Linked DNA regions of Homo sapiens. The protein of the gene in region 1 binds, or shares a complex with, the protein of each later gene. Each region holds a gene or a part of one and is shown on either strand. Other genes may lie near its edges. The genes, in order: EXOSC8 and EXOSC5.

Region 1 (3,481 bases):
ACTTGTCTTCACCTCCTGTTTTACAGATGACTTTCAGTAACCTGTCCAGGTACATAAGACTCATAAGTAAAACTTAGACATAAATCTGACTCCAAAGCCTGTGCTTCTTTGACTACAGTATACCCTGTGTTATTTAACCTCAGTTGAGATTCTTCTTTCGTAAACCTGGAGTGATGTATAACAGTAAGATTTGAGAACTTGCTCCTTGTCAGGTTTTATGCCTGGGATTTAACAGGTCTATCTCATTTGGCCCTTATTAACAGTCCCTAGGAGTAGACACTATTTTCTTCCCATTTGACAAGATGAGGAGTTTAAGGTAAGAGGTTAAATAACTTGCCTGAAGTCTCTCAGCCAGTAAGTATGGCTCTGACATTTGAACTGGCTTAGTAATTGCAGAGCATTTGCTTTTTTTTTTTTTTTTGAGACGGAGTCTTGCTCTGTCGCCCAGGCTGGAGTGCAGTGGCACGATGTCAGCTCACTGCAAGTTCCGTCTCCTGGGTTGAAGTGATTCTCCTGCCTCAGCCTCCCAAGTAGCTGGGATTACAGGCGCCCGCCACCATGCCTGGCTAATTTTTGTATTTTTAGTAGAGACGGGGTTTTGCCATCTTGGCCAGGCTGGTCTCAAACTCCTGACCTCAGGTGATCCGCCCGCCTCTGTGTCCCAAAGTGCTGGGATTACCGGTGTGAGCCACCGCGCCCAGCTGAGCTTTTGCTCTTTACCACTAAAGCAGCAGTTCCTAAATCTTGCTCTATCATCTGGAGAACAAATTAAGATTCTTGGCTAGTAGTTGGGGGCACAAACCCAGTTACTATTTTTTAAAAGATCTCCAGGTAATCTTGCCGAGCAGCACTGTAGTGTAGTCCACTGTACTGTAGTGCCTTCTTATCTTGTAGAGCTATTGTGAGGATCAGCACCAATGTCCGTAGAGGCCCTGACACAATTCCCTAAGCTGATATTTGATAGAGCCTTCCATAACTGATTGCTAAATTGTCTTCATAATTTTTCAGTAGCTTCTTTCAATAGGAAACATTTCTTTGCTACTATAGGAATTTGCAGCACCATCAACAGATGCCCCTGATAAAGGATACGTTGGTAAGTTAAATGGTTTTGTAATTTTAATACAAATACTTTTAACACATTTAATAATTTTTAGTTAAGTCCTAGTTAAGTTGATGTAAAGAAAATTATTCCTAATATTCGGAAATATTTATGAATAAAACAAATTCCTCAAAAGTTTTCCGTGTGTTAGTAAAAGATAGCATAATAGCAGGATATAGAATTTCATAAATTTAACCTTTATCAAACTTGTTTGCTCAATTTTTGTTTATACATTCATAAGTTACTAACCAAGAAAATAGAATTTTGGCTGGGTGTGGTGACTCACACCTATAATACCAGGATTTTGGGAGGCCAAGACAGCAGGATCGCTTCAGCCCAGCAGTTCAAGACCAGCCTGGGAAACAAAGGAGACCCCGTATCTACAAAAAAAATCAAGTTAGCTGGGTGTGCCAGTGCACACCTGTGTCCCAGCTACTTGGGAGGCTGAAGCAGGAGGATTGCTTGAGCCTGGGAGGTTGAGGCTACAATGAACTATAATTGTGTCACTGCATTCAAGCCTGAGTGACAGAGTGAAACCCTGTTTCAAAAGAAAAAAAAAATAGAATGGAATTTTTTTAAGTCAAAGAACTGTCATTGCACACCTTTTGTTTCCATAAAGATTCTTTGCTTTATACAACTGCTATTTTTTTCTTGCCTTGGAACCATCTGTTCTTTATGGTAGGAACCAACATTTTTTTTAAATGAGAAAAACAGTTGGATGTTAGCAGAGGGGCTATATATACTTCAGTTACAGATTGAGGTATTTTGAAAGATACCAGGAAAACTCGTAAAGGATTTAGAATTGAGGTCTAAAATAGATTTTTTAAAAAGGCATATGGGGGAAAAATGTCAGAAAAATAGAAATTTCATGGCTGGGAGTCTTAGAGAGACCAAACAGAATATAACTATAATGTTACAATGTATTCTACTCAGAAGAGCCTGTCCATGGCCACAGTTGCCTTTACTGTGGATTGATAATACCTTTAACACTTCAGTAATCCATAAATTGAAAAGTTTAGGCCGGGCATGGTGGCTCACACCTGTAACCTCAGCACTTTGCGAGGCTGAGGCGGGCGGATCACGAGGTCAGGCGATCGAGACCATCTTGGCCAATATGGTAAAACCCTGTCTACTAAAATACAAAAAATTAGCCGGGCGTGGTGGCGTGTGCCTGTAATCTCAGCTACTTGGGAGGCTGAGGCAAGGAAATCTCTTGAACCTGGGAGGTAGAGGTTGCAGTAAGCTGAGATCGCACCAATGCACTCCAGCCTGGCAACAGAGCAAGACTCCATCTCAAAAAAAAAAAAAAAAAAAAAAAGGTTTAGTTCATAGCTGCAGAGTGTTTCTTTCAGTTCCTAATGTGGATCTACCACCCCTGTGTTCATCGAGATTCCGGTCTGGACCTCCTGGAGAAGAGGCCCAAGTGGCTAGCCAGTTCATTGCAGATGTCATTGAAAAGTAAGAGCACCATGATAAAATTTTATTACAATTCATTTTCAGATAGTTTTGGGCTTTTCATTTACTTTGCTCTTTGTCATTAAATCAAGTTCACAGATAATTCAGAAAGAGGACTTATGCATTTCTCCAGGAAAGGTAAGAGGAATAGAGAAGCTATAAGTTCTTATTAATTCTGAAGGGATTTTTTTTTTGTGGGGGAAAGTGAACAAGGAAATTAAAACCACCAATCAAAGTAGCTTTAAATATGGATGTCTTACAGATTTTAGAGATTCAGTAATTTCTTACTCTATAATTCTCTAAATGAACCATATTGTTTATAAAAAAACAAGTTTGACTAACTTACTGCCTGTCTGGGAGCTACCTTTTAAACTGAAGTAATTTTTTTCCCCCTTAACTTTTAAAGTTCAATCATTTTTTATTCCTTATAGCAGATTATAACATTAATCATGTTAACATATGTTTATGGTGAATCCACACAGTAGATTCCAAAGTCTATTTGAAAATGTAAAACTAGGTTGATTAGAACCTAGAGAGGCTTTCCTACTAGATCATATAAACTGATACATTAGCACTGTAAAACTTAAACATTTCATGTATTATGAGAACGTGCATTTTGAATTTTAGCTAGGGCTTTCAAAACCATCTCCCTTATCTGTAACCTCCCAATGAGAATGGAAATTCCTTCTACATCTGTAGCTCCATTAAGGGAAATGGACATGTTTGTCATTTGTCAGCCTGGCAATCAAAAGCCAGCTTTCACAAAACCTGTCCACTTTCTTCTGGTTTTCTATAGAACTTTAAAAAGGTGAAGCATTTTCTTAAGGTTTTTGAGCCTTGAAAGTTATCTTGCTTGTTTAACCAAGGGTTCTGTGGTTCTTAAGTCTAAGCTAATAGCATGTTCTACCCATTAGAAGACTTTAATTT
Region 2 (3,817 bases), on another chromosome or scaffold:
GGTATTGTGACCCCATTTTACAGAAGTGGAAAGTGAAGCCCAGAGGAAGGCGTGGAGGATCAGCAGCAGAGCTGGAACCGGTTGACTAAAGCTGTGGTCTTTGTCTGGCTGCTAGGCCTGGAGAAGAAACACATTAGGAAACTGAGGCAGAGCCAGCTGACTCCCAACCTGTGCTCTCTTTCCACTGTGAGCTTCCTGCAGGCAGCAGCGAGGTGGCTCTTCCTCCATTGCCCTGCCAGCTCTGTCACCGGGGAGTGGCTGCTACCCAAGTTTCGGGCCTGGCTTTGCCAGTGCCTCCCCCTCGTGTCTTTGGAAGGTTTCTTCCCCTCTCTGACCCTATTTGCCAACAAATGTGTGGTACGTACTTCAGTACATACCTATTGAATATTATTATATTCCCCATCTAACAGATGAGGAGATTGAGACTCAAGGAGTAAGTCACTTGTTCAAGGTCACACAGCTGAGCAAAACTAGGTCTGGAACCCAGGGCTACTTGATCCCCGGACCACTTTTAACCACTCTGCCATACTGCCCTTCTGTGACCGATTAGTGATGTCTGCCATAGGCATCAGCCTGGTGGAGGGAGGCATGGATCTGCTCTGCTGGCCAGGCCTACAGTAGAAACTTCTTAGGCTGGGCGTGGTGGCTCATGCCTGTAATCCCAGCACTTTGGGAGGCCGAGGCAGGTGGATCACCTGAGGTCAGGAGTTTTCAGACCAGCCTGGCCAACATAGTGAAACCCCATCTCTACTAAAAATACAAAGATTAGCCGGGTGTGGTGGTGGGTGCCTGTAATCCCAGCTACTCAGGAGGCTGAGGCAGGAGAATTGCTTGAACCCAGGAGGTGGAGGTTGCAGTGAGCCGAGATCACACCATTGCACTCCAGCCTGGGCAACAAGAGCGAAACTCCATCTCCAAAAAAAAAAAAAAGAAACTTAACCATTTCCTGTGGTGCTCAGCTCCTGGCCTGTTGTCTGAATGCCGCCTGCATGGCATTGGTGGATGCAGGTGTGCCCATGCGGGCTCTCTTCTGTGGGGTCGCCTGCGCCCTGGACTCTGATGGGACCCTCGTGCTGGATCCTACATCCAAGCAAGAAAAGGTAGGTGTGAAGACCAGGGTGGCTGAAGGGCAGAGGCCAGACAGCTGCCCGTCCCTTCCTCCAGGCCTCGCTTCTCTACAGACAGTCGGCTCATGCCACCTCAATCCCACTTAGCAAGGGCTGCTCTAATCATCATGGTTCATTTAGCAGCAAGTGCTGGAAACCCAGCTCAGACTTGCTTAATTAGGAAGGAAATGTGGGGCCGGGAGCGGTGGCTCACGCCTGTAATCCCAGCACTTTGGGAGGCTGAGGTGGGTGGATCACCTGAGGTCGGGAGTTCGAGATCAGTCTGACCAACATGGAGAAACCCCATCTCTACTAAAAATACAAAATTAGCCAGGTGTGGTGGCGCACGCCTGTAATCCCAGCTACTCAGGAGGCTGAGGCAGGAGAATCGCTTGAACCCAGGACGCGGAGGTTGTGGTGAGCCGAGATCGCGCCATTGCACTCCAGCCTGGGCAATAAGAGTGAAACTCCATCTCAAAAAATATAAATAAATAAACTAGAAAGGAAATGTATGGCCAGGTGTGGTGGCTCACACCTGTAATGCCAGCACTTTGGGAGTCTGAGGCAGGCAGATCACCTGAGGCTGGGAGTTGAAGACCAGCCTGGCCAACATTGCAAAACCCTGTCTCTACTAAAAATACAAAGGTTAGCTAGGCATGGTGGCACACATCTGTAATCTCAGCTACTCAGGAGGCTGAGGCAGGAGAATCACTTAAACCTGGAGGGTGGAGGTTACAGTGAGCTGAGATCGCACCACTTCACTCCAGCCTGGATGAAAGAGTGAAACTCTCAAAAATAAAATAAAATAAAACCAGGACTTTAAACACCATCAGGATGTCCTTGCTTCACTTCTCGTCCCTGCCTTTCTCTGCACATCAGCTTCATTCTTTCTGGCCAGCACCTTTCCTGAGGCTGGGACTGACCCCTTAAGCTCCATTTCCATCCTAGGAGGCTCAAAAGCAAACGAGAAGAGAGTTTTCCTCATCGGCTCAGGTGCAGTGTCCTAAGCTCAAGTTATTCTGAGTTTTCTGCCCAGTGCTATAATGGTCCCCTCTAGTCAAGAAGACGGAAACCACTTGGAGGGTTTCAGATGGAGGGAGTTAAATGCAGGGACTTTGTAACAACAGTGTTGAGGAACTAGAGGAGGAAAAAGGAAGCAGGAGTGACACCCAGAGATGAGAAACCCCTCCCAGACCTGGACTGAACCTGCGAGCCACCTCCTGTTCTGTCGTGTTGGAGACATCATCTCAATTGGTTCTGGATGCACATAGCATGTCCTGCTTCTGCCCTGGCCACTGAGGTCCAGAACCCACCCCACCTCCATGGCTGTCACACAGCCACAGCCATCAGCACCTGCCATTGTCCATGAGGACCAGGGTGCTGCTTTTCTTCCATTCTCCCACCTCATTACTGATGGAAACTAGCTGGTAAGGGAGTCTGGGAAATACAGCTTGCTGGCTTCCAGCCCCTGTGGGACAGAGCATGGAAGGGGGACTGGGAGGCCGAGAGGTACCAGATAAGTGAGTGGCACTATGGCTAGCCCCTTGGGGCAGGAATACTGAGCTTGGAAGCCCCTGTCAGAACCACGTGGTTGGAATAAGGGGCATGGAGTACAGTTCTACAAAGGAAAGGCAGAGGGCTATACCCAGGGAAGTAGGGAAGGGGTAGCGTAGACAAAAAATGGCTGCGCTTGATGCTTGATAGGTGAGCGCCTGGCTATGGAAAGGGAGAGGCCTGGAGGCCAAGGGTCCGGAGTCCCCTCAGTGGGACTGGCTGCAAGTGTGTGGTGGGAAGGGGAGCGTTGAGACAGGGTCTCACTGTCGCCCATGCTGGAGTGTAGTACGATCACAGCTCACTGCAGCTTCAAACTCCTGGGCTCAAGCAGTCCTCCCACCTCTGCCTCCTGAGTAGCTGGGAACTCAGACATGCACCCCCACACCCAGCTACCTTTTTTTTTTTTTTTTTTCTGAGATGGGGTCTCCCTCTGTTGCCCAGATTGGTCTTGAGTTTCTGGCCTCAAGCAGTGCCCTGCCTTGGCCTCCCAAAGTGGTGAGATTATGGTCATGAGCCACTGTGCCTGGCCAAAGGACTGGCTGAGATTTTATCTGAGGGGAAGGTCCTAGGTCCCCCACCGCCTTCTACCCCTTGTCCCTAGGAGGCCCGGGCAGTCCTGACCTTTGCCCTGGACAGCGTGGAACGGAAGCTGCTGATGTCCAGCACCAAGGGGCTCTACTCAGACACTGAGGTACCAGCATGGGGATGAGGGGAAAAGCCAGAACCTTCCTTCCCACTGACATACGGTCTTGTCCCAACTCTGCCCTGGATTCTGAGAGGCTTCAGGAGAGCCTCTTAAATTTCTTCTTGTAAAAAGGGAGTTTTCAAACTTTGTGGACCCAGAAACCTTTGCGGAAATGTTTAAGGGAAGCCCAATTTATAACACAGGCAAAAAGAGGATGAGCTCAGTTTGAAGTCAGAAGAGGGCATGTGATGGTCCCCCAGCTCCCAGCTCAGAGTGGTGAGCCATGGGAATTCCAGGTCTCAGGCTAAGGGGCAGAGCCTGGAAACTCTTGGACATGACTGTCTGCAAAAGCATGTCCAACCTGGACCTCATGAATCTAGGAATACATGGCAGTGAAGACTGGGAGTCTCTTGATTCCATGGCTCTTAGATTATTTGGGCTGAAGGGGACTGTGGCTGTAAAATCCCAAGAC

The links.
Region 2: EXOSC8 (region 1) and EXOSC5 share a complex: the UniProt entries of both Homo sapiens proteins name them as parts of the RNA exosome core complex.

The regions. Positions count from the first base shown.
Region 1 is NC_000013.11:37,003,469-37,006,949, forward strand, and holds part of EXOSC8 (exosome complex component RRP43), read left to right. Parts: intron 1-1,047; coding exon 1,048-1,093; intron 1,094-2,451; coding exon 2,452-2,557; intron 2,558-2,646; coding exon 2,647-2,692; intron 2,693-3,481. UniProt on the Homo sapiens protein: Non-catalytic component of the RNA exosome complex which has 3'->5' exoribonuclease activity and participates in a multitude of cellular RNA processing and degradation events.
Region 2 is NC_000019.10:41,387,048-41,390,864, reverse strand, and holds part of EXOSC5 (exosome complex component RRP46), read left to right. Parts: intron 1-959; coding exon 960-1,100; intron 1,101-3,261; coding exon 3,262-3,351; intron 3,352-3,817. UniProt on the Homo sapiens protein: Non-catalytic component of the RNA exosome complex which has 3'->5' exoribonuclease activity and participates in a multitude of cellular RNA processing and degradation events.